Linked DNA regions of Homo sapiens. The protein of the gene in region 1 interacts with the protein of each later gene in a biochemical or structural test. Each region holds a gene or a part of one and is shown on either strand. Other genes may lie near its edges. The genes, in order: RBL1 and CREG1.

Evidence for each region.
Region 2: the proteins of RBL1 (region 1) and CREG1 form a complex in vitro, tested with the Homo sapiens proteins (one study listed by BioGRID).

Annotation. Positions count from the first base shown.
Region 1 is NC_000020.11:37,029,835-37,033,657, reverse strand, and holds part of RBL1 (retinoblastoma-like protein 1), read left to right. Parts: intron 1-781; coding exon 782-993; intron 994-3,823. UniProt on the Homo sapiens protein: Key regulator of entry into cell division. Directly involved in heterochromatin formation by maintaining overall chromatin structure and, in particular, that of constitutive heterochromatin by stabilizing histone methylation.
Region 2 is NC_000001.11:167,547,230-167,551,052, reverse strand, and holds part of CREG1 (protein CREG1 precursor), read left to right. Parts: intron 1-2,931; coding exon 2,932-3,051; intron 3,052-3,823.

The DNA.
Region 1 (3,823 bases):
CCTGGGTGACAGAGTGAGACTGTCTCAAAAAAAAAAAAAAAAAGTCCAGCTGCAGTGGCTCATGCCTGTAATCCTAGCATTTTGGGAGGCCAAGGCAGGCAGATGGCTTGAGCTGACGAGTTCGAGACTAACCTGGGCAACATGGCAAAACTCCCATCTCTAAAAAAAAAATACAAGCCGGGCACAGTAGCTCACTCCTGTAATCCCAGCACTTTGGGAGGCCGAGGAGGGCAGATCATGAGGTCAGGAGATCGAGACCATCCTGGCTAACATGGTGAAACCCTGTGTCTACTAAAAATATTTTAAAAATTAGCCGGGTGTGGTAGCATGTGCCTGTAGTTCCAGCTACTCAGGAGGCTAAGGCAGGAGAATTGAACCCGGGAGGCAGAGGTTGCAGTGAGCCGAGATCACGCCACTGCACTCCAGCCTGGGCGACAGAGCAAGACTCCATCTCAAAAAAAAAAAAAAAAAATTTACCAGGCATAGTGGCTTGCACCTGTAGTCTCAGCTATTTGCGGGGGTTGAAATGGGAGGATCACTTGAGCCCAGGAGGTCGAGGCCACAGTGAGCTGAGATGGCGCCACTGCACTCCAGCCTGAGTGACCAAGTGAGACCCTGTCTCAAAAAAAAAAAAAAAAAGAATTCAGTCATAACCTAGAATTACTATTTTGTAGCCTTCTTATACACACAGATATATGTATATATAATTGTCAAAATATATATAGTTGACAACTTTCCTAGAACATATGCAGATTATTTCTAATAATGCTTATACATTCAGGTGTCGCAAATGATGCTGGAGAGATCACACTGATACCTCTTTCCATGAATACAAATCAGGAGTCCAAAGTCAAGAGTCCTGTATCACTTACTGCTCATTCATTAATTGGTGCTTCTCCAAAACAGACCAATCTGACTAAAGCACAAGAGGTACATTCAACTGGAATAAACAGGCCAAAGAGAACTGGGTCCTTAGCACTATTTTACAGAAAGGTATGTGTTTTTATAGCACTTTAGAAGAATTTGTTTAATCAATGGAAGAAAGATTGAGTAACAGAGACAGACTTTGGTCTTTTTTTTTTCTAATATACATAACACAAAATTTACCATTTTAACCATTTTTAAGTGTACAGTTCAATGGTATTAAATACATTCACATTGTTGTGCAGCTTTATTACTACCGTCTATCTCCAGAACTTTTTCGTCTTCCCATTCTGAAATTCTGTATCCATTTCTCCCTTTCCCCAGCTTCTGGCAACTACTATTCTACTTTCTGTTTCTGTGAATTTGACTACTCTAGGTTCTTCCTATGAGTGAAGTCATACGATATTTGTTTGTTTTTGTGACTGGCTTAGCGTAATGTCTTCTAGGTTCATTCATATTATAGCTTGTGCCAGAATTTCCTTCCTTTTCAAGGCTGAATAATATTCCATTGTATGAAGAAGAGAAAAAAAGAACAAAAGAAAAAATATTCCATCATATGAATATACTTTTTTTTAATACCACATTTTGTTTATTCATTCATCTGCTGATGGGCATTTGGGTTGCTTCTACCTTTTGGCTATTGTGAGTTATGCTGCTATGAACATTTGTGTACAGGTGTCTGTTCAAACCAGGCGTGGTTGCTCATGCCTGTAAACCCAGCACTTTATGAGGCCGAGGCAGGAGGATCACTTGAACCCAGGGGTTTGAGACCACCCTGGGCGACACAGTGAGACCCTATCTCTATTTTAAAAAAAAAAAAAAAAAAAAGCAGCCAGGTATGGTGGCAGATGCCTATAGTCTTGGCTATTTTGGAGGCTGAGGTGGGAGGATCACATGAGCCCAGGAGGTTGAGGCTACAGTGAGTCGAGATCACACCACTGCGCTCCAGCCTGGGCAACAGAACGAGGCCCTGTCTTAAGAAGAAAAAAAAATAGCAACAAATATCTATTCAAGTCTCTGCTTTCAATTCCTTTGGGTATATTCCCAGAAATGGGAGAGTAATTTAGTATTTCATTTTCTGAGGAACCACCGTACCATTTTCCACAGTGGGTGGACCATTTTACATTACCACTAGCAAGGCACAAGTGTTCCAAGTTCTTCTCATCGTTGCCAACGTTTCGTGTTTTCTGGTTTGTTTGTTTTTTTGATAATGGCCATCCAATGGGTATAAAGAGACATCTTACTATAGTTTCAATTTTCATTTCCCTAATGATTAGTAATATTGAGTATCTTTTCATGTGCTTTTGCCCATCTATATATCTTCATTATAGAAATGTCTATTCGAGTCTTTTGCCCATTTTTTTAATTATGAGTTTTGGGTTTTGTTTTTGTTAAATTGTAGGAGTTCTTTATGTATTCTAGATATTAATCTCCTATAAAATATACTATTTACAAGTATTTTCTCCCATTCTGTGGGTTGCCTTTTCATTCCGTTGATAGTGTTCTTGACACATGAAAGTTTTTAATCTTAATAAAGTCAATTTATTCTTTTCATTTTTTGTCTGTGCTTTTGGTGTCATACACAAGAAATCATTGCCAAATCCAGTATTATAAAACTTTTCCCCTATGTTTTCGTCTAAGAGTTTTATAGTTTTTAGCTCTTATATTTATTATGTCTATTTTTTTTTGAGACAGAGTCTCACTTTATCACCCAGGCTGGAGTGCAGTCACGCAGTCACAGCTCACTGCAGCCTCCGCCTCCCAGGTTCAGATGATCCTCCCACCTCGACCCTCTGAGCAGCTAGGACTACAGGCATGTGCCACCATGCCCAGCTAATTTTCGTTTTTTGGGTTTTTTGTTTTTGTTTTTTTTTTTTTTGAGACAGAGTCTCACTCTGTTGCCCAGGCTGGAGTGCAGTAGCGCAATCTCGGCTCACTGCAACCCCTGCCTCCCGGGTTCAAGCAATTCTCCTTTCTCAGCCTCCTGAGTAGCTGGGACTACAGGAATATGCCACCACGCCTGGCTAATTTTTGTATTTTTAGTAGAGACGAGGTTTCACCGTGCTGGTTTGGCTGGTTTCAAACTACTGACCTCAGGTGATCCACCCACCTTGGCCTCCCAAAGTGCTGGGATTACAGGTGTGAGCCACCACGCCGGGCCTGTTTTTGAACTTTTTTGTAGAGACGGGGTTTCACCATGTTGCCCAGGCTGGTCTCAACTCGTGAGCTTAAGTGATCTGCCCACCTCAGCCTCCCAAAGTGCTGGGATTACAGCCGTGAGCCACCACGCCCAGCCCATTTTAATTTTTGTATATGGTGTTAGATAAGGGTCTAAAGTCATTCTTTTGCACATGGATATCCATTTTTCCCAGCACGATTTGTTGAAAGACTGCCCTTTCCCATTGAATGAGCTTAGAATCCTTGTTGAAAAGTCACTTGAGCATAGATATGGGGGTTTAATTCTGGGCTCTCTATTCTATTCATTGGACTATATGTCTATCTGTATTCAGTACCACACTGTTTTGATAACCATAGCTTTGTGTCATAAGTTTTAAAATCAGGAGGTGTGAGACCTCCAACTTTGTTTTTCTTTCTTAAGATTGTTTTAGCTATTTAAGATTTCTTGAGAGTCTGTATGAGTTTTAGGATGGATTTTTCTCTTTCTGCAAAAACATTGTGGAATTTTGACAGAGATTGCATTGAATATGGAGATCGCATTGGCTAGTGTTGACATCTTAAGAATGTCAAGTCTTCCAGTCCATGATCATAGGATGTCTTTTCATTTGCGTCTTCTTTAATTTCTTTCAGCAACATTTTGTAGTTTTCTGTATATGTCTTTTGCAAGACAAGTCCTTGCTTAAGATTATTCCTAAGTATTCTTTTTGATGCTATTGTAAGT
Region 2 (3,823 bases), on another chromosome or scaffold:
CCAGTGAGTCTGAAGGGAAATCTTGGGGTTTGATTATTTGCACCAAGACCTCTTACTATTAGCCTCCCTTCCATTTTGGCATTCTTTTCTTGTGATGTGCCCCTTTCTGTTCTGGTCACTCTTGGTTTTTTTTCTCTGACCCACTAAAATAAGTATCCCTCAAAGTCAGTTTCCTACTCTTTTGTTCCCTGCAGCGATCCTCAGAAGATTGTATACACTCTCGTTGTATACATTCTCTTCTAGTCCTTACTAGGACTCACTTCCAGATGTGTGTCCATTTCTGACCTCTTCAAAGTTCTCTATATTTCTGCTTGCTGTTCATTTTTGCTTCGTTACTTTGCCACCACTTCAAATTCAACATGTTTAAATCCAGTCCTTCTTCCTCCTGAAACAAGCTGCTTTTGATCTTCTGCATTTCTGTTAGTGGAATTATTGTTTTCTCAGTAAACCCAGTTGGTTCTCACTGCCTCCCCAAATCCCTCAGTTCCCAAGTCCTGACAGTTTTTTGTTGCCTTCTTTACCTCTGTCCTTGCCCCTTCCTCTTCATTCCTGCCACCTCATCCTTAAGCTTATCATCTCATGCCTAAAAGTACTAGAACAGCTCTTACATAGTCTTCCTGTCTGCCCCATCCACCTTGCCTACCCAAATAGATTAACAAAAATACCTGTCACAGCATTGCCCTCTGGCCAGAAACCTTTAACAATACCCAGCTGCCTATAGCTGCGTAAGAGCTACCTGGGATGTTTGTTTAAAATGCATATAGAGGCGGGTGCGGAGGCTCCAGCCTGTAATCCCAGCACTTTGGGAGGTCGAGGTGAGCGGATCACCTGAGGTCAGGAGTTTGAGACCAGCCTGGCCAATATGGTGAAACCCACCTCTACTAAAAATACAAAAATTAACTGGGTATGGTGGTGTACGACCGTAGTCCCAGCTATTTGGGAGGCTGAGTTGAGAGCATCAGTTGAGCCTGGGAGGCAGAGGTTGCAGTGAGCTGAGATCACGCCATTGCACTCCAGCCTGGGTGACAGAGCTTGATTCTGTTTCTAAATAATAAAATGCAGATAGAGGACAGCTTGGTGGCTCATGCCTGTAATCCCAACACTTTGGAAGGCCGAGGTGGGAGGATCACTTGAGTCTAGGATTTTGAGACCAGCCAGGGCAACACAGTGAAACTCCATGTCTACAAAAAATAAAAAAATATTAGCCGGGTGTGGTGATGCACATCTATAGTTCCAGCTACTCAGGAGGATGAGATGGGAGGATCACATGAGCCCTGGAGGTTGAGGCCACAATGAGCCATGATTGTGCCACTGCACTGGGTGGCTGCCTGGGTGACAGAGTGAGACACTGTCTTAAAAAAAATATTGCAGGCCAGGTGCGGTGTCTCACGCCTGTAATCCCAGCACTTTGGGAGGCCGAGGTGGGTGGATCACAAGGTCAGGAGTTCAAGACCAGCTTGGCCAACATGATGAAACCCAGTCTCTACTAAAAATACAAAAATCAGCTGGGCGTGGTGGCACACACCAGTAATCCCAGCTACTCGGGAGGCTGAGGCAAGAGAATCGCTTGAACTTGGGAGTTGGAGGTTGCAGTGAGCTGAGATCGCACCACTGCACTCCAGCCTGGGTGACAGAGCAAGACTCCGTCTCAAAAAAAAAAAACAAAAAAAAATTGCAGTTATTTGGGTTGGGAGTGAAGCCTGTTTCAACATTTTAACCCAAATCAGCATTTTATCAAGCTCTCCAGGCAGGTGGTTCTTAGAAAACAGTGCCTAAGGTTGGCCCACAAATTACAATCTAGACTCCTTAACTTAGGTTGGAGCCCTCTCCACTCCCAACCCCAGGCTCCTCCCGTAGGAAAGCCCTTCTTTCCAGCAAATCAGGTTTCTTGGTACTGTTCATCAAGTCTTAGGCTCACCCAGTTCTGTGTTTTTTGCAGTCAGTGTCTCCTCTCCCTTTAATATGTCCTCCCACCTTCTATCCTGGTTTTGAATATATTATAAAGCTCCTTACAGTTCCTCTATCACTCTGGTCTATGCTGGACATACACATTTGTTTATGTCTGCCTTTTCAACCAGATTATAAACTCACGGAGGGAGAGAGTTTACCTGAGTGTCCCCCTCCCCTTCTTTGGTCTCCTGTGGTGCCTTGCCTAATAGTTTCTAGACAGTGACTATTTGGCTAAATGATTTCAAAGAAATCTCTTTATGACTCTTTGTTTTGATGGGTCAGTGTGAAATGGCAAAATTCTCCACACAAGGCACTTAGAGCTTAAAGAGCTAAATAGTCTAAAATGCGATGTGTGAATTTTGCTATAATCTGTCAACAGTGCCTTTTATGAAGTTGATTTCTGAATAAGAAAGCATTAAGAATTTTACTTGTGTTACTTTTTGAATGTGGGATAAAACTCATTGTTACTAAAGCAGGAATGAACAACTTCTCCAGTTTTGAAATCACATGACAGTTTCTGCTAATGTAAGATAACCAAGTAGCATGATTCAGCTACTTTCTTGCTTAAATCGCGTAGTTAGCCAATTGAGCAACTGTGGTGTTTTTAGCAATGGTTTTGTATAGAGTTTAACCCTTTAAATCTTTCAGTGAAGCCTATAGAACAGCCTTGAATTTGGGTGTCACTATAATTATAATTCTTCTGATGAATATGGAATAAATTCAGGGTTTCAGAAAAAGAATATTGAAATAATTTTTACCAAGTCAGTTCATTTTAAATATGAACCCCCGCACCCCCTTTGGGGAGTGGTCAGGATACTTTCCAAGTATTATTTTCCCCTGAGTGGAAGGTGATGTTTTATGATTCATTGTTTCGTGGAAGACCAGTCAAGCTCTAGGGACATCATGTATGCAACTTTTGAAATTTATTACCTCTCCAGAAACCATATTTCACATGAGAGGATCTTCATTTTCTCTCTATAGGAGAATCCATATGCTACACTGACCATGACTTTGGCACAGACCAACTTCTGCAAGAAACATGGATTTGATCCACAAAGTCCCCTTTGTGTTCACATAATGCTGTCAGGAACTGTGACCAAGGTAAGTAGTTATCCTACAGGAAGGGAGATGGTTTCAGAACACCATCGTATTCACAATGAAAGAATAGATCATTTTTCTTTTGAGACAGAGTCTCACTCTGTCTCCCAGGCTGGAGTGCAGTGGTGTGATCTCGGCTTACTGCAACCTCTGCCTCCTGGGTTCAAGCGAGTCTTGTGCCTCAGCCTCCCTAGTAGCTGGGATTACAGGCACGCACCACCACACCCAGCTAATTTTTGTATTTTTAGTAGAGATGGGGTTTCACCATGTTGGCCAGGCTGGTCTTGAACTCCTGACCTCAAGTGATCCACCCACCTCGACCTCCCAAAGTGCTGAGATTACAGGCGTGAGCCACTATGCCTGGCAGAATAGATCTTTTCAGAATGAAATGCAGTTGATTTGTGATTGCCATGCCCAGTCAGAACATGTTCTATTCTAATAGGTGAAGTAATTCCATGAAAACCAAACGTTTTAATAAGTTGCTTTCATATAGGTGTTAAATAAGATATGACAAAAATGAATGATTTTCTGAAGCCAAGCAGATGTAACAACTATGAAGCTCCTGTATATAAAGTTATTCTTACTAAAGAGCATCTGGTTGACCAAAGCCCTCTACTCTCCATTACATTTTACATTGGTATAATGTTTTTCCATGTCTGGGCTCCTTGTCTCCATATTTTAACAGTGGCTTAAAGCAGAGAAAACATATTAAGTAGGCCAACCAGAGGACTATCCATTACTGAAAACTGGAAGTGAATTTAGTTTGGATCACCTG